Homo sapiens: one gene and its partners. The protein of the gene in region 4 purifies or fractionates together with the protein of the main gene of each other region. This does not show direct contact. Each region holds a gene or a part of one and is shown on either strand. Other genes may lie near its edges.

Evidence for each region.
Region 1: the proteins of ANTXR1 (region 4) and H6PD purify together in Homo sapiens (affinity purification with mass spectrometry; 3 studies listed by BioGRID and IntAct, with this or other methods). This does not show direct contact.
Region 2: the proteins of ANTXR1 (region 4) and FOXF2 purify together in Homo sapiens (affinity purification with mass spectrometry; 3 studies listed by BioGRID and IntAct, with this or other methods). This does not show direct contact.
Region 3: the proteins of ANTXR1 (region 4) and PDIA5 purify together in Homo sapiens (affinity purification with mass spectrometry; 3 studies listed by BioGRID and IntAct, with this or other methods). This does not show direct contact.
Region 5: the proteins of ANTXR1 (region 4) and ERF purify together in Homo sapiens (affinity purification with mass spectrometry; 3 studies listed by BioGRID and IntAct, with this or other methods). This does not show direct contact.
Region 6: the proteins of ANTXR1 (region 4) and KIRREL1 purify together in Homo sapiens (affinity purification with mass spectrometry; 3 studies listed by BioGRID and IntAct, with this or other methods). This does not show direct contact.
Region 7: the proteins of ANTXR1 (region 4) and PC purify together in Homo sapiens (affinity purification with mass spectrometry; 2 studies listed by BioGRID and IntAct, with this or other methods). This does not show direct contact.

What each region holds. Positions count from the first base shown.
Region 1 is NC_000001.11:9,244,600-9,248,516, reverse strand, and holds part of H6PD (GDH/6PGL endoplasmic bifunctional protein isoform 2 precursor), read right to left. Parts: intron 3,593-3,917; coding exon of another isoform or gene 3,583-3,592; coding exon 2,956-3,582; intron 1,552-2,955; coding exon 1,434-1,551; intron 1-1,433. UniProt on the Homo sapiens protein: Bifunctional enzyme localized in the lumen of the endoplasmic reticulum that catalyzes the first two steps of the oxidative branch of the pentose phosphate pathway/shunt, an alternative to glycolysis and a major source of reducing power and metabolic intermediates for biosynthetic processes.
Region 2 is NC_000006.12:1,392,247-1,396,191, forward strand, and holds the end of FOXF2 (forkhead box protein F2), read left to right. Parts: intron 1-2,449; coding exon 2,450-2,613; 3' UTR 2,614-3,357; downstream 3,358-3,945. UniProt on the Homo sapiens protein: Probable transcription activator for a number of lung-specific genes. Mediates up-regulation of the E3 ligase IRF2BPL and drives ubiquitination and degradation of CTNNB1.
Region 3 is NC_000003.12:123,065,634-123,070,056, reverse strand, and holds the start of PDIA5 (protein disulfide-isomerase A5 precursor), read right to left. Parts: upstream 3,033-4,423; 5' UTR 2,893-3,032; coding exon 2,851-2,892; intron 1-2,850.
Region 4 is NC_000002.12:69,180,621-69,184,537, forward strand, and holds part of ANTXR1 (anthrax toxin receptor 1 isoform 1 precursor), read left to right. Parts: intron 1-1,165; coding exon 1,166-1,261; intron 1,262-1,872; coding exon 1,873-2,040; intron 2,041-3,917. UniProt on the Homo sapiens protein: Plays a role in cell attachment and migration. Interacts with extracellular matrix proteins and with the actin cytoskeleton and thereby plays an important role in normal extracellular matrix (ECM) homeostasis.
Region 5 is NC_000019.10:42,249,252-42,252,198, forward strand, and holds part of ERF (ETS domain-containing transcription factor ERF), read right to left. Parts: intron 2,190-2,947; exon of another isoform or gene 2,138-2,189; intron 1,914-2,137; exon of another isoform or gene 1,695-1,913; intron 1,315-1,694; coding exon 1,080-1,314; intron 692-1,079; coding exon 576-691; intron 488-575; coding exon 1-487. UniProt on the Homo sapiens protein: Potent transcriptional repressor that binds to the H1 element of the Ets2 promoter. May regulate other genes involved in cellular proliferation.
Region 6 is NC_000001.11:157,992,232-157,996,745, reverse strand, and holds the start of KIRREL1 (kin of IRRE-like protein 1 isoform 1 precursor), read right to left. Parts: upstream 3,102-4,514; 5' UTR 3,070-3,101; coding exon 3,018-3,069; intron 1-3,017. UniProt on the Homo sapiens protein: Required for proper function of the glomerular filtration barrier. It is involved in the maintenance of a stable podocyte architecture with interdigitating foot processes connected by specialized cell-cell junctions, known as the slit diaphragm.
Region 7 is NC_000011.10:66,948,253-66,952,169, forward strand, and holds part of PC (pyruvate carboxylase, mitochondrial precursor), read right to left. Parts: intron 1-3,917. UniProt on the Homo sapiens protein: Pyruvate carboxylase catalyzes a 2-step reaction, involving the ATP-dependent carboxylation of the covalently attached biotin in the first step and the transfer of the carboxyl group to pyruvate in the second.

The DNA of each region.
Region 1 (3,917 bases), on a different chromosome or scaffold from region 4:
CATTTTGGAGTTTGTCCCACCAGCCAGTGTGATGAGATCATCACCCCCCACAGCACCCGTGAATCTGGGCAGTATTAGGGAGCCATATCTGAGAGGCTGAGTTTTGTACCTCACTGTGGCACCTCGGCCCCGCAGAGAGCTTCTGGCACTAAATACACATTCAGAGAGGAAGGGAGAAGCAGCTGAAGAGAAACCAAGGGGCGGGGGAAAGAAAAAGAGAAAATGGCCCAGAGAAAGAGCAAGGGAGAGAGAAAAAGAGGAGAAACCTCCTGGCCCATCCCTGGGTCCAGGGCTCTGGGCCCTGCCCTGTGGCGGGCACGCACTGCGGGGGCTGGGGGGGCAGTGGCCTCGGGTGCTCCCGCTGCAGCTGCAGAAAGCGGCCGCGGGGATGAGCTGGCCACTGACGCAGCGCTGGCAGCACAGCGCAGCGGCGCCAGGCCTGAGTGCTGGGGCCAGACTGTTGCCCCCAGGATCAGGCTCCACCGCCTTCTACTGTGGGGCTGTGGGCTCGCCACCATCTTCATCTGTAAGGAGGCTAGTAACAGCGCCCACCTCACCTGGCGGCTGGGGACTGGGGACACAGTAAACTTCAGCTCTTATCGTTACTGGGCAAGAGCCAGTGCTTTACATCTTCACGGTCAATGCTCCAAAACTTTGCTACCATCACAGAATGCCAGCTAAGGGACCTTAGCTGTCCTCACCGACAGGACATGCTCATCTCACAGCTGCAAGGAGTGACATGCTGAGGCCACCCAGCTGAAGGCAGCGGTGGGCATGACGCAGGGCCCCCGCCTCCCGGGTGTATACTCAGTGTGTCTGAGGTGTGTGGCAGTGCGGGAGAGGCGGTGTCCTCCTGGAGCCTACAGGCTGGCAGAAGAGACAGGGTGGACAAGGACGAGGCAAGGGTAACACTGTGCAGGGCAGGGGAGGGAGGTGTGTGGCGCCGTGAGGGTGAGGGGAGTGGGCCTGCAGGGCTCAGAAAGTCTTCCTGGAGGGCCATGGAGCTGAGAACTAACAAGCGAGAGAGGGGTCAGAAGGTGAGGGGGACGCGAGGGGGAGTGCCCCAGGCAGGGGGCGCCACGGCTGCAAGCACCACAGTCGGGGAAGCCCTCACGCAGTTCCCATGGTCTCCACGCACTCAAAAACTTGGGGGACCTCAGGGAGACTCCAGCCTCTACCGCGTGCCAGTGGTTTCCCGCCTCTGTGCCAGGCCTACTTCTCTGGACCATACGCTCCTCATGGGCAGCAATGGCTACTTGGGCTTTGCAGCCGGCACCCTGGGGTTTAGCCCGGTTCAGAGCTAGGCACACGGCAGGCTCGAAGGGAGACCACACACCCACAGAAAACCTCCCTCTGAGAAGCGCCCCATGCCTCACCGCAGACAGCGGGCAGGCAGAGGCTGGGGGACCGAGTGCGCAGGGCCACTCACACACCTTCAGCATCCACGGTCTCTTTCATGATGATCTCCACCCGCTCCACATGGTGCCGGTTCCAGAGGCCGTCCAAAGCCTTGCGGTTCTGGTCTCGGAAAGGCAGGATCTGCGCCACAGCCTGTCGGGGGGGGAAGACTGGGCGTGCTGCAGGATACTCTCACGATGAAGGAGGAACCCTGACTCCCGGGAAGGGCTCTGACCTTTCTATTCCCTGCTCAGAGCAGAAGATGCCCTCTGAGCAGTAGTTCTGGACTTCACGATCTCACAGGCCAGTAAAGGTTCCAAAAACTTGCAAGTGACCTCCAAAGGGTTACCAGATTTGTATTTTGCCAAGAAAAAAAGTTAGAATTACCTATCTTCTATTACAATCAATTTTTAATAAAATAAAGATAGGTTTAACACCAAAAATGTAGCAAAGAAAAGCTCTGAATTGAGCACATTCTGTATTTCTTCTCATCTTGCCATAAACAAGTGAAAACCTCCCCAGGACTGGCCCAGTTCTGAGGACCCCTATTTAGGAATCCTACTATGGGCAACTCCAGGCAGGGTGGGATGGAAGGCCATGTCTCTGTCCTCAACAACTGCCTATGCCCACCCGCACCACGTACCAGAACACAGGGCTGCTGCACTCTCTGCCAGGGTTCCTGGGGCAGGATGCCCCCAAGGGCCTCCAAGGCATTTTGAGTGAACTGGTCAACGGACATGTGTCACCCAGGAGGTTAACCCATGCTCCTGCCCAGGACTTAAGGTCCTACTGCTCCCTGGTTTAAGCTCTTGTTGCCAACCTTCTGGCTCAAAACAGAACTCAGGAAGAAAAACATTTTGAAAAAAGGTAGATGGGGCAGGGTGCGGTGGCTCACGCCTGTAATCCCAGCACTTTGGGAGGCCGAAGTGAGCGGATCACTTGAAGTCAGGATTTTGAGACCAGCCTGGCCAACATGGTGAAAACCCATTTCTACTAAAAATGCAAAAAATTAGCCGGGCATGGTGATGCGCGCCTGTACTCCGAGCTACTTGGGAGGCTGAGGCGGGAGAATTGCTGGAACCCAGGAGGCGGAGGTTGCAGTGAGCCGAGATCATGCCACTGCACTCCAGCCTGGTGACAGAGCAGACTCTGTCTAAAAAAAAAAAAAAGGTGGATGGGTGCAGGAGAAGAGAGCTCATTCTGATTCCCACAGCACACCCAACAGGAAGCCAGATCCAGACACCAGAGTTGCTGAGCCACCGCTACAGGGGATGCAGGGCAACCGTGAGAAGCCAGAGCCCAGACTGGGAAACAACGAGAACGGGGGCTTTGCAAAGGACAAAAGAGGCCAGACACATGGACAAGGACCCAACAGTCCTGCCCTGCTGCTGTCTTTCCTTTACCCGCTCGCCTCCTGCCCACCTTCAAGGAGACCATGGGAGCTCTGAGTTCACAATGCCTTGGGGCCTAGCTCCACAATGAGCGAGCGGCTTTGTTGCTGGGGTCTACCAGCGCCCAGCTCACCCTAGCCCTGGCAGGCTCCATGCTGATGCTCACCTGCTTGCCTAAGTAATGGTCCACCCGGTACATCTCCTCCTCCTGGAAAAAGGTCCCGAGTTCTGTGGCCAGCTGCTGGGCTGAGAAGTGGTCATGGCCAAAGGGTTTCTCAAGGACAACCCGCAGCCAGGCGCCCGGGCCTGGCCGGCAGCTACTGTTGATGTTGCGGGCAATGTCTTCATAGGCGAAGGGTGGCACTGAGAAGTAGAAGATCCTGCCAGCCTCCCGGAGGCCTGCGTGCTGGAGCTGTGCCTCGATGTCCTTGTTCAGGGCCTGATAGTCCTCGGCCGTCTTCAGTTGGCGGTACTGGCTCAGCTGCAGGAACTGATCCTTGTGCTCTGCACAGTGACTGGGTGCCATGTCCTTGGGGCAGGAGAGGGATTCCAGGGCCTTGGCCATGAGCTCTTGACCCTGCTTGGGGGCTGTCAGAGCAGCTCCATGGAAGCTAAAACTGTGACCCCTCCCCGCTTCATCCAGGTACAGCTGGAACAGTCCCTGCCATAAGTACTTCTTAGCCAGGTCCCCAGTTGCTCCCAGCAGGATTATGGAGACATGTCCCTGGAGCTCCTGGGCTTGCAGGCAGCCCAGAAGGGCCAAGCACATCGCCACTATGAGCATATTCCACATGCCTGGGTGCCTGGGGTGCAAAGAGAGACAGACGAGGAACAAGGAAGGATCAGACATGGTTCAGGTGGCTACGATGTGGAAACAAACACTTCCTGCCTGGCAAGAAACCACCACGTGTTTCTTAAGAAAATGTTATAAGCCCACAGCTTGTCCCTCCCTCCTGACAGCTTGGCTTCTGTTCCAGGAAGTCAGTGGGTAGGGAGCCTGCCCTGTAGACAGGGACTCTGCCTGGGAAAGTTAGAGACCACTTGCTAGAGATGAACCACTTTGCTGCCAGGAGCATAGGAAAGCGGCAAAGGCCACCAGGGAGGGCCGCAGGCCTGGGAGTGGAGCTG
Region 2 (3,945 bases), on a different chromosome or scaffold from region 4:
TTTTAAATGTGGGTCTCAGAGGTTAACCAAACAAAGACAGTCTCGGCAGGACCACACCGGAGAGGATTTTAGCCTGACTTAACCCACTGAGAACAGAGTCTTGTTCAATTTTATGGGAATTTCAACAAGTAACCAATACAGGCGGCCTTCCCCTCTTATTTTTGTATTCCCTTGGACCGGCTGTCAATCACACACACACACACACACACACACACACACACACACACACACCCCTCGGTGCACTGGCCCCTTCCCTTCCCCGCCTGCCTGCTCCTCTCCCAGCCTGCCAGCTGCCCTCCCTGCTCCCCTTCTTCTCCTCTCCCGGCAGATCCACTCAACTTGAACCCGGACTCTGAGGCTTAGCAGCCTTGGAGAAACCGTACTCTAGGAAGAAAAAAAAGCACACAGGAAAGAGACTCCTGACCCTTCCTCAAGGCTGCTCTCGCCCCACCTCATAACACTGGGCGCAGGCACAAGCTCCCAAAACTTCGGAATCTGGATACATTACTGTCTTGGAGGGGGTGAAAACTGCCCAGCAAAGCAAGCCGGCCTCTGTGCCCCTACCCAGCGGCCTCCCGCGGCCGGCCTTCCCTGGGAGCCTCGCAGAACCCCCGACCGAGTCTGGGAACGCCCGGGGGAGACAATAGCTCGGGCCTGACGCCCGACAGGGACCCTCTGCCCTTCCTTCCTCGCTGTCTTGCTCCCGTCCCTATAGGATACCCACCCGGCCCTGTTGCCATCTCCCTGGAGCGCCAGCGGTGGAGGCTTCGGAGGAGCCGGCCGGATGCACCGGGACCCCGCGGGGCCTAGTTGGGAGCGCGCCGCCCACTGAGGCCTGGGGGCCCGGCGAGGCGCGGGGGTGGCCAAGGCAGTCTCCCCGGCACACAGATCAGCACATGTCTACGCGCACACACCCAGCACGACCCTCCCTCCCCCAGCACACCCCAAGGGCCGCGCCCTCCGCTCCTGGGCCTGGTGGCCATGGTCCATGTGCCCCTGCCGGCGCAGGGGCTGCCCTGGAGTTCTCCATTAAGCCCTGCGAGCACTTCAGGAAGGAGCTCGGGCTTCTGTCATCCCGCTCAGCACATCAAAGCGCCGACGGCCGCCTTCGTGGGCAGGTGTGAGCGCTCGCCCTCTCTCCTCCCGAGCCTGCTATTTTGTGGTCCAGGACTTGCCATCAGAACTTGCTTTAACGCGACGAGGGAACTCACCTGTGTGCAGAGCGCCGCGCACACATCGGGGCTCGCGGGACAGGGCAGCTGCGTTAGCGCAGCGCCGGGTGTGTTCGGGTAGGTGTTGCGGGCAAGGAAGTAGGCAGCGGCCCCTGAGCAGCCGCCTCGCTCCGGCATTGCGGGGACACGGCGGGGCTGAGGCCACGAGAGCAGGGCCCGAGCCCGGCGGGCCGTGGTTACGGTTTTCTTGCACTGAAAAACTGAATCCGGCCCGAAGCGACGTGCACTTTATGGTCCCCACACCACTCGGTTAACTAAGAAAAGACCCGGGCGAATGGACCTAACGCAGCCCGGTGCCGAGAGGGCCCGGTCCAGCAGCCTCTGGGGCCCAGTGCGCAGGGCACTGCGGGCCGATTGCGCCCCGGGGCCAGGAGGCGCCGAGAAAGCAAAAGCAAAAGCCGGCGGCGGGTGGAGGTCAAGCGGCCCGGTGCAGGCCGGGGACCGGGGAGCCGCCCCGGGAGAGCAGGGTCCAGGCCTTCTCTGTCCCCCTCCAGCCTGGGGCTACCTCAGGGACTCCTCGCGCTGCCAGATGCTTCGGACCAAAGGGCATTTCTCTGCGCCCTGAAGTCCCGGCTTCTCTAGAGGAAGTCTAAGACGTTCGGGACCCACGAAGATGCCTGCGGAGGGGCAGGAGAAGAGGCGTGCTTTTCTGCCCCATCCCTTCATCTTGCGATTGGGTTGTTTTCTATCGTCCCCTTTGGCACAGGGAGTCCTCTGCGCTCGCTGCTGTGACCGGCCCAGTTAGTTGGGAAACAAGGCTCAGAAAGAAGGCCGCAGTGGTGTTTCTGGGGTAGGGTGCTTGGCCCTCCCTGAAGCCAGGGCTCAGGGCAGCACAGGCCAGGAGCTCTGCCGGGAGAGACCCGGAACCAGAGTCTGGGTCTAGTTGTCCGGTACCTGTGCTCATTCTGAGATTAAAGTGCACGCCCCAGCCTCAGAGAATAAAATTGGAATTCCAGGACATAAGAATCCCCCTCGAGGGGGAACTTGCTCTGTGTTTGTGCGAGCATCAAAACAAAACATAATGATTCCAAAGCAATTCTATGACGTGCAGTTGGTGTGTTTGAGCTACTTCTAAAGCTGGGCTTTCTCTACCAGCTGTCTAGCAATTTACTAAAAGGCACAGCAGCACCTTTTGTACTCTGAGGCAAAATAAGACACCCTGCCATCCACTGGATGACTTTGTTTCTGAAGAGGTTTTTTTTTCTTTCTTCTTTCAGTGGGACTGCCCCGTTACCAGCATCACTCTACTCCAGTGTGTGACAGAAAAGATTTCGTCCTCAACTTCAATGGGATTTCTTCTTTCCATCCCTCAGCTAGCGGGTCGTATTATCACCATCACCACCAGAGCGTCTGTCAGGATATTAAGCCCTGCGTCATGTGAACGGAAAGAGGCCAAGCGATGGCCGCTCTCTCCTCTCCCCTCCTCAGAGGGGGCAGATAGAAACTGGGACGGATTCAAGTCACATGCACGCGGATAGCAGTAAGCCACACACCTGCCACTTAGCCAGAATGCCCAGGATCGCGTTGGTCACTGTTATTTGCCTACTGCTGGAAGAAGGACAACCGCTGGCAAGGTAGCGTTCCCCAATCTGAATACCTGCAGGCTCCCACATGAGGGAGAGGGCAGACTCAGGTGGGAAGATGTGCCATGCGTAAGGCATCAACGTGTATCTGTGGGATCTTCGTTGCCTTCAGTAATCAGGGTGTGAAAAAAGCAGACAAGTTGTGTGTGTGTGTGTGTGTCTAAGAAAACTTGTGTGCTTTTCAAAAAGGCAGTGCTAAGCACAAGATTTCAAGAAAGCCTCTTCTTGTTGCCTAGCTGAGTGGGAGAGTCATTTTCCCCAGACACTACATTTGGATACAGGTGCCAAAGAACATTATTAAGGAATTATTTAGAAACAATGTGTCTAGTTTAAGAAAGTGGTTTTCAGTATTGTGACAATACAACGTTTTTACAAGGTTGTTTTCTACCACCATATTTTAAAGATATTTTTATGACCGTGTATACTCACACTTTGCTTGTATTTTAAAAGGAGGATATATTTGCACTTATGTATACTTTTACAGTTTGCCAAAATATTTTGTTGTAAAATTTTTTTTCAATAAAATGTATATAACAAATAGTTGTTTTAGGGGCTGATTTTCTCTTCGGGCACCCTGAGAGCAATGGATGCCAGTTTCTCCTCCCCGGCAGGCAGCTGTGCAACTCTACCCACACCCCCTCCAGTGGTGTAACTGACATGGTGTGGGGTCTGTGCCTTGAGTAACACAGGCCAGGTTCTGATTGTGAGTCTTCTCAGGAGAAAAACAGTGGAAGAAACGTTTTCTGTTATTTCTTTCTTTACTTCACCCCAGCTTTTTCTGGCAAAACAAAAACCAGAAGGTGAAAGGAACTAGAAAGAAAACCAGGCAAGATACCGACCAGGGTTTGATTTTGAGGAAACCAATTTTGTGCCCCTTCTGTTTTCTTTCCTGTGCCCGGGGAGTGTTCTGCCCTTTGCCCTCTCTCCCTCCCGACTGGCATGGGTTGACAGATGTGGGGCACAGTGGTAAGCCCCCCTCCAGGGTTGGATGCCCAAAGAACAGCACCCTGCTTCTTCCCTTTGCACGTTGCAATTTTGTTATGGGTGGCGGTCACATGCTGTCAGAAATGGGGTTCAGATCTGAAGAATGCAGGGGGATCCCTGAGCTGCAGGGGGCAGGCTCCCAGCAG
Region 3 (4,423 bases), on a different chromosome or scaffold from region 4:
GTGCAGTGGCGCGATCTCAGCCCACTGCACCCTCTGCCTCCTGGGTTCAAGCGATTCTCCTGCCTCAGCCTTCTGAGTAGCTGGGACTACAGGCGCCCGCTACCATGCTTGGCTAATTTTTGTATTTTTAGTAGAGACGGGGTTTCACCATGTTGGCCAGGCTGGTCTCGAACTCCTGACCTCAGGTGATCCACCCGCCTCAGCCTCCCAAACTGCTGGGATTACAGGTGTGAGCAACTGTGCCCGGCCAGGACTGAGTATTTCTGTCATTCCCCTGAAAATTCATATGTTAAAATCCTAACCCCCAAAGTGGTGGTGTTAGGAGGTGGGGCCCTTGGTACGTAATTAGGTCATGAGGGTGGATCGCTCATGAATAGGATTAGTGCCCTTGAAAAAGGGACCCAAGAGAACTGTCTAGTCTTCTTTCTATCATATGAGAATACAGTGAGAAGTCAAGAGTCTTCTGGAGGAGGGTCCTCACTAGAATTCAACCATGCTGGCACCCTGATTTCGGACTTTTGGTCTGCAGAACTGTGAAAAATACATTTCAATTGTTCTACACCACCAGTCTATGGGATATTTCTTATAGCAGGCCAAACTGAAAAAGATAAATATCACTTTCCATGATATGGACAAGGCCAGATATTATTTAACCATGCCACTATTATTGAGCATTTAACCCATTTCCACATTTTGCTATTGTAAAAAATGTGGTGGGTGTATATCCCTGTACACGAATCCCTGCAGATGCCTTTATACCCTTCAGGTCACAGCCCAGTCCTGTGCACATATCAGCCCTCAGTAAATATTGAGTGAACAAAGAAACCCAACCGGCTTCCAGGAACCTGGGGAGCACTTATCAGATAGATACAGCATTTAAATTTACAAAGACCCAACGCGCTGTCCAGCAATCACTCACCACTGCTCCTGTTGGCATGCTCCCTCCACCTCCTACCCGCTAAGCCAACTCTAGGGCTTAGGGAAAGGAGAAGATAGAAATTGCTTGCTCAGGACTCCCAGGTTCTAGTGCTTTCAGCAAACCTACCTGCTCTTCCGCACCTCCTGGTGAAGGGGACCTGCAGCCCTCCACTGCCTAGCTAACTACCACACATCTTTCAGACTCTGTTCAACCCTACCACCTCAGGAAAGCCATGGCTGACCTCCCTTTAAATCAACGTATGGCTCCGGTTCAGTGAAGGATACTAGTACTTAAGGTCACAGCACTTGCAGTTCTGTCATTATTTGCTCACAGGACTGACTCCTTTGCCCAATCCAGGGCAACACCAGACGGCAGGTACAATGTGTGTTTTGCTCTCCGCCCAAAATCTAACCCAGTGGAGGGCAAAATATCAATCCAAACAATGTGATTGACAAATAAATGTCTGCCGAATGAAATTTCAGATTCTCAAGCCGTTTGTTTTCACAAAAGGGAGGGGAAAGGGAGGAAAGCAGGACCTCCTACTCAGCCCAAGTGCAAAGACCGATGGGGGGCGTTTCAGGAGATAGCTCCCTCCTCCTGGCCCAGAGACCCGCCCAGACCAACTGGCTCCAGGGAACTGATGGCAAACCAGCATTCAACAAACCCAGACGCAATTAAGTGACACTGCCCCACTCCAGCCTGGTTCTCCCCAAGAGGGAGAACACAGACCGAAGAGAACAGGGGGCTTCTTTCCCCACCCACTTCCAACCAGAGAGTACCAGGCCACTCCTCACTGGTGATCCAAAAGGCCAGGGTATTGGGAGATGGAAGTGTTTCAAGCAACTCAACCCACACTTTTCTCCTCCCATTTGCCCAGTGTCCTTGCCACACCCAAATGGAAAAGAACGGGAAAATCTGGGTTGGGGGGAGGGTGCCAGGAACAGGAAGTTCCCTGGAACTTCAGGGGAAAAGGACCAGGATGGTCCTAAAATAAGGGAGCGCATAAGTTATGGAAAAGATGGGGAAGGAGGCCACAATATCTCATCACACACCCACAGCGAAACGAAGGCCAAACCCCAGACCTGGGCCGGCAGGCACACCCATTCCGACCTCTCTCAGGGATGCCTGGAGTCCCCCCCACCAAGTGTAGCAAACTACTCTTGGAGTCCACTCCTTTTCCACTTTTGTAAGATTTTGCAGTTTACACAGCTTCCTCCACTGAGACCTCATCCGACTCTCAGAACCACCCTATGGGGGTAGCTTTGCCTTTCTATATCATGCATGAGGAAACTAGCTCAGATACATTAAATGAACCGCCGCGTCACACAGCTAGAAAGTGGCTGAGGCTCGAGCCCGCCTCAGTTGGGTGTAGGAGCAGCTCCTCCGCCGGGGCGGGCTACGTCGACCCCACCCAGCCCACCGAGCCTGGCCTGTGGGCGGAGGCCCAGGTGGTGGCCCGCAGTTTCCCAGACGCCTGGGGCCGAAGCCAAGAACAAGGTGGCCCTAAACCAAGGTTTCCGGCAGTGCAGGTAGTAAGCACCCCCATCCCACCCCGCACTCACACAGGTGCAGGGCTCGGAGTCTGGAGCGGAGCTCACCCCGCAGCCCGCCGGCGTCCTGCCCGACCGGCTGTGCCCCGACCTGCATCCCCGCAAAGTTGTGGCCGTGGCGTAAGCACCCTGCCAGGGATCTCCCGGCGCCCCACAGCTGCCTCCTGCCCCTGCGTCCGGGAGCGCTTGGCGGCGAGGGCACCGGGACGCCCGCTGTCTCCCGCGTAGCACCCAGTGCCCGCCTGCCTGGCATGCACGCCCTCATCCCGGTGCCCCGGGGCAGCTCCCCGCACGTTCCGCAGAGGGCTGGAGCAGAGAGCGCAGAAGGGCACGCGGGACACACGTGCTGGCCCGGCCCGGATCCCTGCCCCACAGTCTCACCCAGATTGCCAGCAGCAGCCACGCCGGCCCGGCCCGCGCCATCCCAGCAGCGCTGCCCACCGCTGGCTCCTTTCTCCACTCCGGCGCCCGCTCCCGCCCGCCCGCCTGCTAGCTCCACCGCGGCCAACCACCACGGCCACTTCCCAGCCGCTCCCCGCCTCCGAGTTCCCGGTGCCACGTCTGCCAAAGCATGCGCAGCAGCTGGGGAGAGGCGGCCGGGAAGAAGTGCTCGCTGGGAGTTGTAGTCTGCAGCCTGGCTCAGCTGGGGGCTGCGGGTGCGGACTGGGCTCCGAGGCCACGTGGCAGCGAGTGAAGTGCGAAAAGGCAAGGTCAGGGAGTAAGGGAAGGCAATTAATGAGCGGGGGCTTACTCTGTGCCTGGAGCTTCAGAAACAGTATCTCACGCAGCTCACAGAAATTAGGTTTTATTTTCTCCACTTTGAGGATTAGGAGGCAGCGCAGGGAATTTAAGTACGTTGATCCAGATCACACAGCCGGTAAATGGCAGAGTCCAGGGCTGCCTGTGAAGGACAGGAAAAGCCCTCATCCCTGCCTCCCAGACTCCCTCCTGCTTATTCTATTTAACTTCAGTAAAACATTATTGAGCTGTTGGAAAACAATCTGGTGGTTCCTCAAAAAGTTAAACATAGATTACTATATGACCAGCAATTCCACCCTTAGGCTAATACCCAAAAGAATTGAAAACAGGTATTCAGACAAATGCACGTACACCAGTGTTCACAGCAACACTATTTACAATAACCAAAAGGTAGAAACAACTCTAACGTCTGTCAAAGGATGAATGGGTAAACAAAGTGTGATACATCCATCTAATGGAATGTTATTTAGCCATTAAAAGGAATAAAGTGGCCCAGCAGGGCAGCTCATGACTGTAATCCCAACACTTTGGAAAGCTGAGGCAGCAGAATCGTGTAAGACTAGGAGTTTGAAACCAGCCTGGGCAACATAGCAAGACCTCATCTCTGCTAAAAATAAAAATAAAATAAAATAAAATAGCTGGTGTGGTGGCAAGGGACTGTAGTTCCAACTACTTGGGAGGCTAAGGCGGGAGGATTGCTTGAACCTGGGATATGGAGACTGCAGTGAGCCAAGATCATGCCACTGCACCCCAGCCTAGGCCACAGGGTGAGACCCTGTCTCAAAAAAAAAAAAAAAAAAAAAGGTGGGGGGGAGAGAATAAAATGCTAATACATTCTACAATGAATGAATCTCAGAAATGTATGCTAATGAAAGAAGCCAGACACAAAAAGTCACATATGATGTGATTACATCTTATGAAATATTTAGAATAGGTAAATCCACAGAGACAGAAAGCATAGTAGTGGGGGTGGGGAGGAAGGAATGGGGAATGACTGCTTAATGAGTATAGGGACTCCTTTGGGAGTGATAAAACATTTTGGAACTAGATGGAGATGATGGTTCCACAACATTGTGAAGGTACTAAATGCCACTAAACTGTACACTTTAAAATGGTTAATTGATGTTATGTGAATTTTACCTGAGTAAAAATTTTCAAAAGAAAAAAACTCTTTATTGAACCCATTCCCTGTGCT
Region 4 (3,917 bases):
ACTTATTTGTAAATTCAACAGATAATTCTTGGGCACCCACCACATACAACATAGTGCTATTCTAAAGACTGGGAATACAATTGTAAGCATGACAAACAAAAGCCTCTGTGGAACGTACGTTCTAGTGTGGAGAGACAGATATTAAGTAAATATCAAGCCATGATGAGATCCTTAACTAAAAATAAAACAGATTGATGGAATGAAGAGACCGCGGCTACTTTAGAAGAAATTTCCAGGGGAGGTTTCTCTGAGGAGTAATATGAAAATCCATCCATCAGAAGATGGGGTGGGGGAAGTGCTTTCCTAGACAAGGGGACAAGGGGACACTGTGCACAGGCCCCAAGACAGGAATTTGCCCAGAGTATTTGAGAGAGGGCAGGCAGGCTGGAGCTCAGGAGGAGGGGGGCACATGATAAGGAAGAAGGCCAGAAAGGTGAGCAAAGGCCAGAACACACAGGGCAGAGCTGGCGTTTGCACTTACTCTGCTGCTTTGTGGAGAACAGATCATAGGTGAGTCTTAGGGCAGCAGGAGGCCAGTTGGGAAGCTACCACAGTGTCCATGAGCAAGTGCATGGGGGCTTGGGCCCAGGATAGTGGTGGTGGGGATGGAGAAGTCAACAGATTTTAGATCTTTAAGTAGTAGCAACAGAACTAGCTGGCAAGTTGGGACAAGTTGGGGAGAGGCAGTAAAGAAGAGAGAGGCAGTGGGGAAGACTACAGGAGGAGCATGTTTAGGGTAGGGAAATCAGGACATCTCTGCTGTGGTGTTGTTGAGATGTTTTTTAGCCCCCAAATAATGTGAATGTCAAGTGAGCAGTTGGAGTTCAGAAGCATCAGGGCTGAAGATGTAAAGTCACAAGTCATTAGCATGTAGGTGGGGTTAGATGCGATTCCCACAAAGGAGTAGAGCTGTAGAAGAGAACAAGAGAACAGGACTGTACCACAAACTTACCAGGTAGCACTGCTTACATTCCCACTCTACAGATAAGGAAAACAAGCTTAGGTGGTTTCAGTGATTGGCCCAAGGTTCTAGGAAACAGTAGCACTGGGATTGCACCCAGGCAGTCTGACTCTATAAGCTCTACTCCTAATCACTTGGCTGTAGTAGGCAGGTCCACACAGCAGTGCTGTTTTGCTTCCTTCATGTGCCACAATTTCTCTGCAGGAAGAAGATGATGATGGTCTGCCTAAGAAAAAGTGGCCAACGGTAGACGCCTCTTATTATGGTGGGAGAGGCGTTGGAGGCATTAAAAGAATGGAGGTAAGAGGACAGCTTCATATACACTTATCTATGTGCTGACTACTCCCATCGAGGTACCAGCCGGGCCTGACCCTGCTTAGCCTCTAGATATCAGGCATGCCCAGGGCAGTATGGCCGTAGACCACACTGATGACTCAATGTCAGAAACCCAAAGCAAATTGCTGAAAACCTCCTTGAGGTCTGGTGGGGATATGGATTGTAAGGCAGACGGATGGAGAGATAGGAGGGACAGCCTTTCACTGTGCGTTTCCATGTCTTGCCCACCGTGAGTCAGAGCAGGTCACACATCAGCTCAAACGTCCTCGTGATTTCTTTTCTCACTGGAATAAAATCCAAAGTTCGTACCTGAACCTGCAAGGTCTTTGCATGTGCTGTCCCCGCTGCCTGGACAATTCCTCCCTAAATATCCACCCATGTGGCTCAGCTCTCTGCTCCTTTGGTCCTCCCCTTTTCTCTTTTTCCACAGTTTCCCTCTTCCCTGGCCCTCAAAACCCAAAGGAATCCAGGGTTGGGTAGCATTCACATTGCAACTCATGCATGTATTTGTCATTCTCATTCTCGAGGGGCAGCATATTTTGTCATTTCATTTCATTGTATTTTGTTTATTTTAGGTTCGTTGGGGAGAAAAGGGCTCCACAGAAGAAGGTGCTAAGTTGGAAAAGGCAAAGAATGCAAGAGTCAAGATGCCGGAGCAGGAATATGAATTCCCTGAGCCGCGAAATCTCAACAACAATATGCGTCGGCCTTCTTCCCCCCGGAAGTGGTACTCTCCAATCAAGGTGTGTCTCTTTACTCAAAAAATCTATCATCAGTCCTGATAAAACACTTACATAGTGAAGAATCAAAATCTTTCCACATGATAAAATCCCAACCTAAAACCCAGCTTATCACAGGGGAACAATTATCTAAAATTATGGACTTGAAAGTACTAGTAATTACTTTGTCAATTTCCACATAATCTGGGTTGAAAACTAGGCTTTTTAAAAATCACCGTGGTGCTCACTTCTGCAGCACATATAGTAAAACTGGAACAATATAGAGAAGATTAGCATGACCCCTGGGCAAGGATGACATGCAAATTCGTGAAGTGTTCCATATTAAAAAAAAAAAAAAAATCACCATGGCAAGGTACTGGAAAAAGCATGGACTGTGAGTCAAGTAACTTGGGTAGTAACCCCAGAGAGTGACTATAAATTTCCATAGCATCTCATAACTTCACTTAGCAGACAATCTACTATCTAAGAAAAATGGCAGCCTTCTCCTTAATGCTAATCTCTACTCCTTTTGCCATAATATAAGCCCATTCCCTTTTATTTGCGCCTCCTGCCAGTGTATCAGGGCCCACCAGCAAATCTCACTGGTCATGGATCTAGGACTCACTCTTTCTGGTTGTAAGCAAATCTTTTTTCTCCACCATCTGTCTTTCCCCCACACCTCCAGATCTTAAAATCCTCTTTGGTTTATTGGGAAGTGTAAACCGTTGGAGGCAGTTAATGTTTCCTAAAGGCCTCTTTTTTATTTTCTATTTATTTATTTTTTGAGACAGGTTCTCACTCTGTCACCCAGGCTGGAGTGCAGTTGTGTGATCTCTGCTCACTGCAACCTCGACCTCCCAGGCTCAAGCCATCCTCCCACCTCAACCCCCAAGTAGCTGGGACTACGGGCACGCACCACCACACCCAGCTAATTTTTGTTTTTTTTTTTTTTTTTTTTTTTTTGAGGGACGGATTTCACTATGTTGCCCAGGCCTGTCTTGCACTCCTGATAAAGCAGTCTGCCCACCTCGGCCTCCCAAAGTGCTAAGATTACAGGCATGGGCCACCATGCCCAGCCTGAAGGCCTCTTTTCTATTCTTCTTGGTCCAAATGGCTTTGAATTCACATGATTCAGTTAACACCTTCAATCTTTAGCCATGCCCATAAACATCTGCACTATGCCACTTGTCAGAGAGCACTGGAAAATTATAGCTGAAAAGACTCTAGACATAATCTGTCCCCACTCTCTGATTTCATACTGAGATAGGCAAAGTCCTTGTTCTGCTGAGGTCTGGAAAACAAGGCCCCCAACTCAGGGCTACAGACTCCAGTTTCAAGCTGCAAACAGAACCGAACCAACTCCAAAGCCTCAAGTCAAAGACTCAATAGAGCCAGCTCCCATCACCATCCATACACATACACACACTCACACACACACACACACACAGCCTTACCCCCCTTCCAATAGCAACAAAGATTATTTTCATCATTCGCTGAGTTAATTTGCTAATTTTGGATCAGGGCTTCTCCAACAAATCAAAAGAAGTACCATTTCAGGCAGTGTAGCGAAACGTTATTGGTGGTTACCTTTCCTCAGCTGAGCTAGCTCAAGCTCACCTGAATTGCCACGCATTTCTATTTTGGTTTGCCATGTTTGAAGCAGTGAGATTCTTTTTTTAGGATAAGCCTGCCCTCTGGGGTAATGGATTGAACTCTGGAAAGATGTGGGCAAAATGCAGCTTGCTTGAATAACAGCTGTTTGCTTCTAATTATTTTCTAATGAAGAACATGCAGTGGCGTGCATGCATGTGCAGACAGGAAGGAGCCAAGCAGATTCTCAGCCATGAAGAAGAAAGGGGATTTTCTGTTATGCCGTTCTCAGGAATCTGTACCTTGTGACT
Region 5 (2,947 bases), on a different chromosome or scaffold from region 4:
TACATCGGGCTCAGCGTGGGCGAGGGAGTGTAGGCCAGGTGGGTGGGCGTCATGGGCAGAGCCGGGGAGAGCTGAGGGGGCAGCAGGGATCCAGGACCGGCCAGAGGCGACACAGGGAAGGGGCTGAGGGGTTCAGGGCCACCCCGAGGCCGGGGATAGACTCGGAAGACACCAGGGTCATGGGGCAGGCGGGCCAGCGGGGGCCCTCGGAAGGCACCCAGATCCGGAGGGCCGGGTGGTCGGGCGCGGGGATCCTCTCCCAGCGGTTCCTCCAGCTCTGACGTGCCATCACTACAGTCACTGACTGAGCCTCGGCCCAGGCGGCGGGCCACCACAGCCGAGAAGAGGGAAGATGAAGATGAAGAGCAGGCTGGTGGTGAGCGGGGGTCCTCGGTGGGGGACAGCACCTCGGAGGGCGTTGAGGGAGGGAAGCGGAAGTGGCTACCACCCGACGGCACTGGCGGGGCACTCTGGGGCACTGCACCCCCTGGCAGAAGGGAGACAGTGTCAAGGCCCCTGGCCTAGCCTGAAGGGGCATGTAGACCCTCTCCACACCAACCATCCCTGGTACTCACCAGCCAACCCCACATCAATGAATGGGTAATTGACCAGCACCAGTTTGTTGAAATTGAACTTGTAGGTGAACCGTTTCCCCTTGGTCTTGTGCAGAATGCGCTTGTTATAGTAATAGCTGTGGGTACAGAAATGCCATTGGGAAGGTCAGGTACGTGGGACCCAGGTCTAGACTCCACACCTTAACACGCACTTAGGTGTGGTTCCCAAAGGCCAACTGAGGAACGTAGGCCACAAAAGACAAATCAAGTGCCCAGAGGGTGGGTACCAGCTCTCTCCTCACATCTAAGGCAGGACTAGAGGATCCACTGGTGACTGTAATCTCTCCTCAGGATACGTCTGTGTTACCAAGGGGCTCAGGGAAGGGCTGGGAGTGGCCCAAGGTCACACAGCTAGGATTTGGCAAAGCCAGGGGTCAGACCCAATGCTTGTTCCCACAGGCAAGGGGCTGTGCAACCCCGGGGGGGCACTCCACATGTGCTCAGGGGTCCCCAGCCCGTCCTCACCGCAGGGCCCGGCTCAGCTTGTCGTAATTCATCTGGGGCTTGCACTTGCGAACGCCCCACAGCCGGGCCACCTCATCAGGGTCTTTGATGACGAATTCCCCGTAGTCCCCCTGCCAGGCAATGACGCCCTGGTACTCCTCCTTCCGCAGCAGCTCCAGGATAAAGTGCCACAGCTGGATCTGCCTTGAGCCAGGGGACGACTCTGGCTTGTAGGCCCAATCCGGGAAGGCAAACCCTGGGGACGGGAGGCAGGGAGTGGCCTGGGGTCAGGCTGCCAAGTCCAGGGCTCTGGGTCCCATCCCAGGGTCCACCTCTGCCCTGCCTTCAACATGGGGAAATCTGTCTCACCTCAGCCAAGTCAAGATCTGATTTAAGAGAAGACAGTGCGTGTCTGTCTGTCTGCATGTGAGGGGCTAGACAGGAGCTGGGGGGGAGGGGAAGCTGGAGCCCGCTCCAGCGACACCGGGAGAAACAGGAAACCGTCGGCGGTGGGTCCCGGGGCCAGTGCCAGGGGGCCAGGCACCAAGCCAGGCTGGCGGGCAGGGCTGCCAGTGGGGGAGGGGCAGGAAGGGGCACACGTGGCCAGCCGGGTTGGGGTACAGCCCCCCAGCTTACCCCCACTCCCATTCAGAGCCAGTTGCACCACCCCAGCTCCTCGGATGTCCTCCTTAGAAACATGCACTGTCTCCTCCGAAGACCCAACAGAGCCCCTACTCCCAACCCCAAGACCTGAGAGGAAGATTTTTTTTTTTTTTCTTAAAAGGACCAGGAGGGGTGGGGTGACTCGGTTGCCGATGAGGTCAGCGCTTGCACACACAGAGGCTTCTGTCTTCCCTGGAGAGTGAAACCCAGACTGTCTGAGAGGCCCCCCAAGCCCTGGACCCTCTGAGCTACACTGCCCTCCCCAGACCCAGGCATCCAGGCCCCACCTGGCTGGAGGGCCCAGCCCAGGCCTGGAGCTTGAGCAGGCACCCTGGAGCTGTCACCCTCTTCCCACTTCTGCCTTCTCATCTTCAGCTCCTTCCCTGCCCACCTGCCTGCCCACCCCCAGCATTAACCTTGGGTAGAGGTTGGCGGTGGGCTGGCTGGTCTCTGGAGGGGGTGGGCAGCCTGGGGTGGGGGGTGGGGGGTGGGGGGACTGCGGTTGTTGTCATTTCCCAACAACAGGGGCCATCAATAATTCAGCACCAGGCAGCCGGTAATGGAGGGGTGGGAGGAGGGAAAGGGGAGGAAGGGAAGGAGTGGGGAGGCAGAGCAGGGTCCCTGGTGCCACTAGAGAGAGAAGGCCAAGGTGGCCAGCTAAAGATGGGCGGCTCCCAAATCCAGTCAGGCTGCAGGGGTCAATCCGCCTCCCTTGGCCCCAGCTCAAACAGGTACCAACAAGGCCTCCAGGCAACACATCCACCCTCAAAGACTCCACCCAAGTCTGGAATCCAACAAGGGATCCTTCCCCTTGGGAATCCAGGGAATCAGTAGTTCCTGCTCCCACAGGGACCACCCCCTCCAAATCCAGAGCTCACTGTAGGCCCCCAACTCCTGCCCAGACTGGGCTGCAGTACCACATAGCCCCCGGAGTCCCTGCCCCATTCAGATATATCCCAGCCTTCCACCAGCCCCTCAGGGTGCCAGGGATATGACCTCCAGCTGTTCACAGACCAGCACCAACAGCCCCTGTTCCATTTAAAAGTGACAGCCTTTGACAACCCCTTCCAGAGACCCCAGAGCACCATCGCTCTCTTGGGAATCTAGGTGTTCAACCCATTATCCTCACCCTTCTAGAGAATCCAGATCACAAGGTCTCCTGCAAGGCCCAGGGTCCTTTGGAACCCAGGTGACCCAGCCACCAGCTTCATGGACCCTCATATCCC
Region 6 (4,514 bases), on a different chromosome or scaffold from region 4:
TGACTCTTCCCCAACCTCAGCGCCCTGCTCTGGGCAGAAGTGGGACATCTAAAGTGTGTATATGTGTCTATGTGTAGCACCGAAAGGGGAGAGTCCAGTTACTCTCCAGACCTGCTGTTCTCTGCCAGGATTCAGCTGTACTCAGGGAGTTGAATCCTGGGAATTTAGGAGGCCCTCGGGCCTCCTCCCTTTACCCTTTACTCCCCTCAAAAGCTGTGGCAGGAATGCCAGGGGGAGCTCTGGGGGCTGGGTGGGCTTATTTTTCTCCTGCCCCCACATCCATCCCCCCCACGGAGGCAGCTCCCTCCCCGAGCCGGCCTGTCATCCCACATTGCTCTGATTAGCTATAATCTTTCTTTTTCAATTTCTCCTCCCCGAGACTAGGGAGCGAGAAAATCTCCCAGAAAATGAATAAATATTTCAATTTTCGGCGCAATCAGTCTGTGGAGCCGGCGCATGATGGAAACGGGGGGAAGGATAATGGTTTTCATTTAGATAAGATACAGAAAATTATTTAGTGAAAAATGAAGATTGATGAAGCCCATTGAAATTCTTTAAAATGCGATTTTTATTTCTCAGCCTAGGCTGAATCTCCCCTTCCCCTCTCCTCTCTGCTCCCCTCAATTCTATGGCTTCCTGCTGACACCTACTCCCCCATCCCTATTCCCCCACCATCATTCCTCCTCCCTTTTGTAGCGCCCCCCTCCGTTTCCTCTCTCACTGCCCCAGTCCCTGACCTAGAGCTCCTTTCTGAGGATGGAGGCTAAGGAAAGGGGGTCCTGCCAAGCTCTCCACCCCCATGTGTGTCCCAGTCTCCCCAGACCCCTACTCCTTCCCTCTCTGCCTCCTCCCCAGTCCCTTGCCAAGCTTCCCCCAACACTCACTAGTGATTTCCCCTCCCCTCCTGTCTAGTCTCTCCCTTTCTTTTCTCTGGTATCCTCTCCCCCAACCCCAGACACTTTCACCAGGTCCTGCTTTCACCCCTGTTGGAGCAGAGAAGTGGGAGCTCAGCATTCCCTAGCCACTCGCTCCTTTCCAAAGAGAGAAAGGCACACAACACACAATTCTTTCTGTCCCCAATTCAATCCACATGTCTCTCCTGTTTGCTAACTGCTGCTTTTGTTCCTTAACACTCATTTGTATCCATGATGCTGACATGTAAGGGCTGTAAGAAAGGGACAGACATAAGCTTGCCCCCAACATAGACCAATACTGACCCAGGGGCCTCCTCCACCACCAACATGACCCCCCTCCACCACCACCATGGCCCACCCCCTTCCTCCCCGACACCAACAGCCTGGCTGAACAAAGTCAGAACTTAAGTCATCTTCCCAACTTTCTGCCAAGTGGCTGGCCTGGCCTGCCAACCCCAGGGCCAGGCCTCCTCCTTTCCCCTAGCACCACCTCCCACTCCTGGCTCACACCACAGATGTGTGCCCTTCCCATATCATAGTGTGTGCTGGGGGGCTGGCATGGGTGCCCTGTGGGGAGAAATGAATCAAGACGTGCCCCCACCAACTCAGCCAGGCTTTGCCTTCGGAACTGGGAAGAGACCCGACAAGGAGAGGAAAGGTCCAGCATAACACACCACCTACAAACGCAGGAAGGGAACAGAAAGCAGGGCAATAATGCCTGAGGCTGTTCTACCCAGATCCATTCCCAGACACCCCCTAAAAGAGGACACCTCCTCCATCTGCAGTCTGTACATCTCCATAGGTGTCTGCCCATATGAATGTCTGTTCAAGTTTCTTTGTTTGCTAGAGGGTTGGTTTCTGTGAGAGCGTGTGTCCTGTCCTTGTAAACGCCTGCATACATGTACTGTGTATAGTTGTAACGTTCGGGTGGATGAATGCGTGAGTGTGTGCCGATCTGGGGGAGGAATCTGTCTTCCTCAGATGTCTCCGTGTCTTTGTGTATATGTGTCTGTCTCAGTGTGGGGGATGTTTGTGGGGATGTCTCTCTCTCAGTAGGTGAGTAGTCTGTCTCAGTGTCTGTGAGTGTTTTACGGTGTTTGTGTGTCAATTTCTGTGTGTCAGCTCCATTTTTGGGGAGGGAAGGAGTTCAGCAGGATTCAGTCTTCCTTAGAGTCAGACCTGGGAGGCAAGAACCAACTCCCACAGACCCCAGTCCCTGCTGCAGTCTGGACCCTTGGTTCCCTCAGCCCTCTTCCCTCCCCCAACCCCAGCCCTGCCCAGGATACACTGACATCCTCATCTCTCCCAACCACCTCCCTCACCTCCCAGCCTCTCCCCTGCCAGTGTCAAATAAGCCCCAGACAGCAACACTTTCCTGAGCCCAAGTAGAGTGTCAGCCCCCTCCCCCCACCGCCTCTGCCCCCGCCCCCGTGAGTTCCCCCCCTCTGTATCAAGCGGGCCTGAAGCTGTATGTGGAACTCCACTCTCCACCCAGAGCCTCCGTGGGCAGGGGTTCCAAATCCCCACTAGAGGCGCCGAGACACCCCTCCCTTCCTCTAGAGGGGGCAGCCCCAGGCAGGCTGGAGCCGTGATTCAGACTCAGACCCCCGAGGGGCTGGGCTGGAGTAGGGGGATCCCCTTGGCAACATCTTCGGGAGGTGGGACCCAGCTTTTCGCTCACCCCCTCGCCCGAAATCCGAAATCCCACCCTCTTCCCAGCCTTGCCCTTAGGCTGGACTCAGGCGTCCGGAACCCCGGCCTCAGAGGGCGAGGGTCGGTAGGGCTGCCAGAAGCTCAAGAGAAAGCGTTCGGTTCCCCGTTTTACTCGGACCTCCAGCCCTCGCGGCCCCATTGCTCGGTTCTCCCGCGCAGCCAGAGGAAACAACTTGGGCAAATCAACGGCAAACTCATTCTCCCCAGCCCCTCGTTACTCCGCGCCCCCTCCCCCAGGGCTCTGCGCCCGGACCGAGCCCCCGCCTCGTGGCGTCCGGACCCGGGGACTGGCCGCGGGCCGCGGGGCACTCCAGCACTCTCCCACCGGGGAAGCAGTGCCCCGGCCCCGGGGGGAAGCCGAGCGTCCGGGGGTGGGCTGGGGGCCCTTACCTTGGGAGAAAGTATCGGAGAGAGTGAGGATCCAGACGAGGAGGCTCAGCATGCTGTCCGCCCGCCGTGCGCCCGCCCGCGGCTGGGGCCCGGAGTTGGCGAGCGAGCCAGAGGAGCGGGCTGGGGAGGAGGGGAGCCCGGGAGCCCGGGAGCCCGCCCCCCGCCCGCCCGCGCCCGCCCCTGCACACACACACGCGCGCGCGCACACTCACGCGCACAAACTCATTTCCCTGCCCTCCGATTCTCTTTATCTCTCTTTCCTCCCAGACCTTTTTCTCCTCCTGGTCGCCCTCCCCCTTTAATTATTTCTCCTCTCAAGCTGTATCTCTCTGGGTCTCTTTCGGTCTTTGCTCCCCCTTTCTCTCCCCTTCTCTTCCTTCCCTCTCTCCCTCCCTGCCTCCCTGCCTGCCTGCCTCCCTCCCTCCGCCTGACGTCTACTCTCCCTCCGACGGCGCCTCCCTCCACGAGCCCTCCCCCTGCCCCCCCACAACGCGCGCACACACATACCCCCCTCGCTGGAACTGAGATGGAAGGAGAGCAAAGAGGGAAAGGAATTGAGGGCAAAGGCAAAAGGGGGTGAAAAATGTGACCGTCGTGGGTTCTGGGGCAGGCACGACGGGACCCCTGGCCACCCCACCCCCTCCTATTTATAGACGCAATCTTGGTCGCGGGCTATGGAACTAAGCAGTGGAGGAGGAACATGGGCTGAGGGACATCAGCCTCTAGCTCAGAGGATGTGATGGGGAGTGTGTGTGTGTGTGTGTGTGTGTGTGTGTTTCCGTGTGTGTGTCTAGGAGTGGGGTGGGGGGCAGGGAGTTAAATAAACATAAAGACCTTTCTTTTTAAATTCCACACCCAAAGTCTAGCCCCTAGATTCCCCAAATTAAGAATTCTCAATTGACTAATGAATGCTTGGATAAGGGAGGGGCATACATGCCTCTCCCCACCTATAAAACCCAGAACTGGAGAATGGGAGCTGCCTCTTGGACCTGCCTTGAGGCCCTGCCTTGGCTTCACCCAGTCAAGGTTGAGCACAGCTAGGCGTTGGAGGACTCAGCGGCCTGGAAGAGGCACAGTTGACCCTTCCTTTGTTCATCTTAGCCTTCCACCCATCCCGAAGGAGAAGGTAGCCAACTGGATGGCTTTGAAGGGCCAAGACCTGGCCTCACCTCCCTGAATGCAAGCCAGAGGAGAAGACAGCCACCAGTCAGATCTCTAAGCACGCTGGAGTTTGAGATCTTTTGGGGTAGGGACATGGAGGAACTAGGAAGGAAGGGAATTCCTGAGAATCATGAGAGCATTCAGGAGGGATCTCCACTTTCTTAAGGGCCCAGTTTGGCAACCAGCTCCTCTTCTCACCCCTGACCAGATACTTCTGCTCACAGGATTGCTCGGGTAGCCAGAGGTCTGGACCCTAGGGAATGGACAGAGAAGTTGCTGGAATTGCACAATTTTACAGTAATGTGTTGGTCCAAAGAGGTCTCCACTTCTTTCCTC
Region 7 (3,917 bases), on a different chromosome or scaffold from region 4:
ATGGACATATCTCAACATAATTATGCTGAGTAAAAGAAGGCAGAGAAAAAAGAATATATACTGTATGAGTCAATTTATGTGAAATTCCAGAAAATGGAAACTAACCTATAGTAACAGAAAGCAGTTCCATGGTTTCCTGAAGAGTGAGGAGGCAGAGGGAGGAATTCCAAAGGTGATGAATGTGTTCACTCTCTGGACTGCAGTGATGGTTTCACAAGGGTACACATATGTTAAAACTTACTAAACTGTATACTTTAAATATGTGCAACTTATTATATCTCAGTAATACTCCAATAAAGCTATTGTAAAAACTAAAATGTATCACGCCTGTAATCCCAGCACTTTGGGAGGCCAAGGCGGGCTGATTGCTTGAGCTCAGGAGTTCGAGATGAGCCTGGGCAATGTGGTGAAACCCCGTCTCCACAAAAAGTACAAAAATTAGCCGGGTGTGGTGGCTTGAACCTGTAGTCCCAGCTACTCAGGAGTCTGAAAAGGGAAGATCACCTGAGCCTAGGAGGTAGAGGTTGCAGTGAGCTGAGACTGTGCCACTGTACTCCAGCCTGAGTGACAGAATCAGACCGTCTCAAAATAAACAAAAATAAACAAACAAAACATAAAACGGTATAGGAAAGTTTAAGAAAAGTGTAATATTCAGCTTCATTTATTAGATTTACAAGAGTCATTTAGGTATTAGAGGGTTTTTTTAATCAGAAAAATGGAAGAATTATTATTATTATTTATTATTATTATTATTTTTTTGAGATGGAGTCTTGCTGTGTCGCCAGGCTGGAGTGCAGTGGCATAATCTCAGCTCACTGCAACCTCCGCCTCCCGGGTTCAAGCGATTCTCCTGCCTCAGCCTCCCAAGTAGCTGGGATTACAGGCGCGTGACCACCACACCCAGCTAATTTTTGTATTTTTAGTAGCGACAGGGTTTCACCATGTTGGCCAGGATGGTCTCAATCTCTTGACCTCGTGATCTGCCCGCCTTGGCCTCCCAAAGTGCTAGGATTACAGGCGTGAGCCACCCACCATGCCCGGCCAGAAGAATTATTAAAATAGTTAACTGAAGTTGAATATGATTTATAAGTTCAATTGAAACATTTCAGAAGTTTCATCAAATTTGCAAATGGGACCAAGCATTAATCAAAAAGCCCCCTAAGGCCGGGGCGGCGGCTCACGCCTGTAATCCCAGCACTTTGGGAGGCCGAGGCGGGCAGATCACTTGAGTCAGGAGTTCGAGACCAGCCTGACCAACATGAAGAAACCCCGCCTCTACTAAAAATACAAATTAGCCAGCATGGTGGCGGGCGCCTGTAATCCCAGCTACTCAGGAGGCTGAGGCAGAAGAATCGCTTGAACCAGGAGGCGGAGGTTGCAGTGAGCCGAGATCGCGACAGAGCGAGACTCCATCGCAAAAAAAATAAATAAATAAAAGCCCCCTGAAAGTGACTGTTAAAATGTCCTAGAATCGTAAATAGATCAGAAAGATTTATAGGCTACACTTATAAGCTAAACTTAAAAGACTGGCCCTTAAAATAACTAGGTTTCTGAATTCATAATTTTAACAAATTGAAAATCAATTGTTTTCGACCAAAGTAATTTCTGAATAATCTTTGCATTACATAAAAATCCAGGGGTAGGAGTGGGTGTGGCATCCAAACCTCCCTCAGACATGCCACGCACCAGTCACCCGAAACTCACCAAGTCGCTTAGTCTCTAGTCTCTCTGAACCTCTGGTTCCTCACACATTGCAAGAGACAAATATTTTCCAGAATAAATAATATACTTATTATTAATGATTTAATATTAATACATTTCACATTGATACACAGCATGTACATGAGAAGAGGCTCCAAAGCAGCATAAAGTGATGTGCAAACGTAATAAATGGGCAGCATGTGTCACTTCATAGTAACTGCAGCACTCAGTGACAGACAAGAGAAAGGTGACACACATCCCCAGAGACTAAGTATGACTCAGCATGGCCAGGTCGTGGAATTTTCCCAAAGCCTCGTTGTGATGTCATGGTGGATGTCATCAGGAAAGGAGCTGCCACAGAAGCAGTCAGGCCCTTCCACACACAGGCAGTGGAAATGTACTCCCAGCTGTCCCGTGCCCTCCCGGCCCCACCTCTTTCTCTGGCCTCGAGGCATATCAGGACAAGGAGGTAACACAAGAGTAGGAAACCCGAGGTAGTGCTGGGAGTACCTGGGGTAACGCCTTCAGGCATAACACTTAACAACACAACAAAGGGCCACATCCATGTCCCCCCAGGAGAAAGCTGAAGAGGAGGGGAGGGTGACAAGCTTAGACTACAGAGCCTTAGTCCCTAGGCAAAGCTCAAGTCAGCAGTGCCTTGGGAACTGAGGAGCCAAACAAGCTTTGACAAATTACATAACCTGGAAGAAGAGGTCCCTTCTTGGTGACTGATTTTCCCTCTCTATTGATGGATCTAAGGGAAGACATCAATAAAATATGGCAATTTTAAAAGAAGAATAAACAATGGGATCAGCATCTTGGATTCTGCTAAGCAGCCTTCTCTAGGCTTCAGTTTCTTCAGTTCCATAAGACAAGTGGTTTGGGGGGAACCTTCCCCAACATGCCCACCTCTCATTGTAGGGATGCAAGTAAGAGAAATAACATCCAACTCTAGCAGCCAAGAATAAGAGGACAGAGCAAGCAGAGAGAGAACAAGGGGGTGAAACTCGTGGAGGGTGGAGTTCTTCCACGTTACGGCCATTCCCACCATGAGCCCATTGCCCTTACTCAATGGTAGCACGCAGACGGCACCTGCTGGCCCAAGACCTAGCTCCAAGGGAGGACTGCGGGAAATCTCACACAGGAAACCAGCTCCTGCGTCATGAAGGGTCGTCAGAGGAAAACCCCCACATAATGGGTGGAAAACCGAGAAAAACTCCTATACCAAGGAATCCCCACTCAGCACTGGATATGAGCTCTGGAGAAAGTTGTCCCTGAGCCACAAAGTCCCCAAGGCCACAGCGGGCCTGAAGGGAAGAGCATTATTGTTGTCACAAATGCTGGGAGAGCACCTGGTTCCCTGGCTCGGCTGCTCCTGCAGACCAGCAGGGGGAGAGGGGACTGGACTAGCAGGGGACCGGCGGGAGGGCTGTGGAATTTAGGCTGAGGGGAGGCCACTGAATCTCCCAGGCACCTGCCACCATGGAAATCCATGTTGGGGGAACTGTAAAAGCAGTAGAGGCCGGACGCGCTGGCTCACACCTGTAATCCCAGCATCTGGGGAGGCCGAAGAGGGCGGATCACCTGAGGTCAGGAGTTCGAGACCAGCCTGACCAACATGGTAAAATCCCATCTCTACTAAAAATACAAAAATTAGGCCGGGCACAGTGGTTCATGCCTGTAATCCCAGCACTTTGAGGGGCTGAGGTGGGTGGATCACAAGATCAAGAGATTGAGACCATCCTGGCCAACATGGTAAAACCCCGTCTCTACTAAAAATACAAAAATTAGCTGGGCATGGCAGCACACACCTGTAGTCCCAGCTACTCGGGAGGCTGAGGCAGGAGAATTGCTTGAACCCAGGAGGCAGAGGTTGCAGTAAGCCGAGCTTGCGCCACTGCACTCCAGCCTGGCAACAGAGCAAGACTCCGTCTCAAAAAAAAAAAAGAAAAAAAAAAACTTAGCCAGGTGTGGTGGCACATGCCTGTAAAATGTGCAGGGGAAGAAGGGCAGGTCCCTTTTTCCCCGTTGTTACCGTGACTGGCAAAGGTTGAGCGTCACCCTCTGGAAACCCGTGTCAAGTGACTTTACAACCAGCTGGCAGAACCACCTCACACCACAGCTGCCTGCTCTCCATGCTGACTCAAGGGGTCTTCTCAGAGACGGCCCAGCCCCAGGGATTCTTCCTGCCCAGCTTCCCAAGCTGACCATACCCT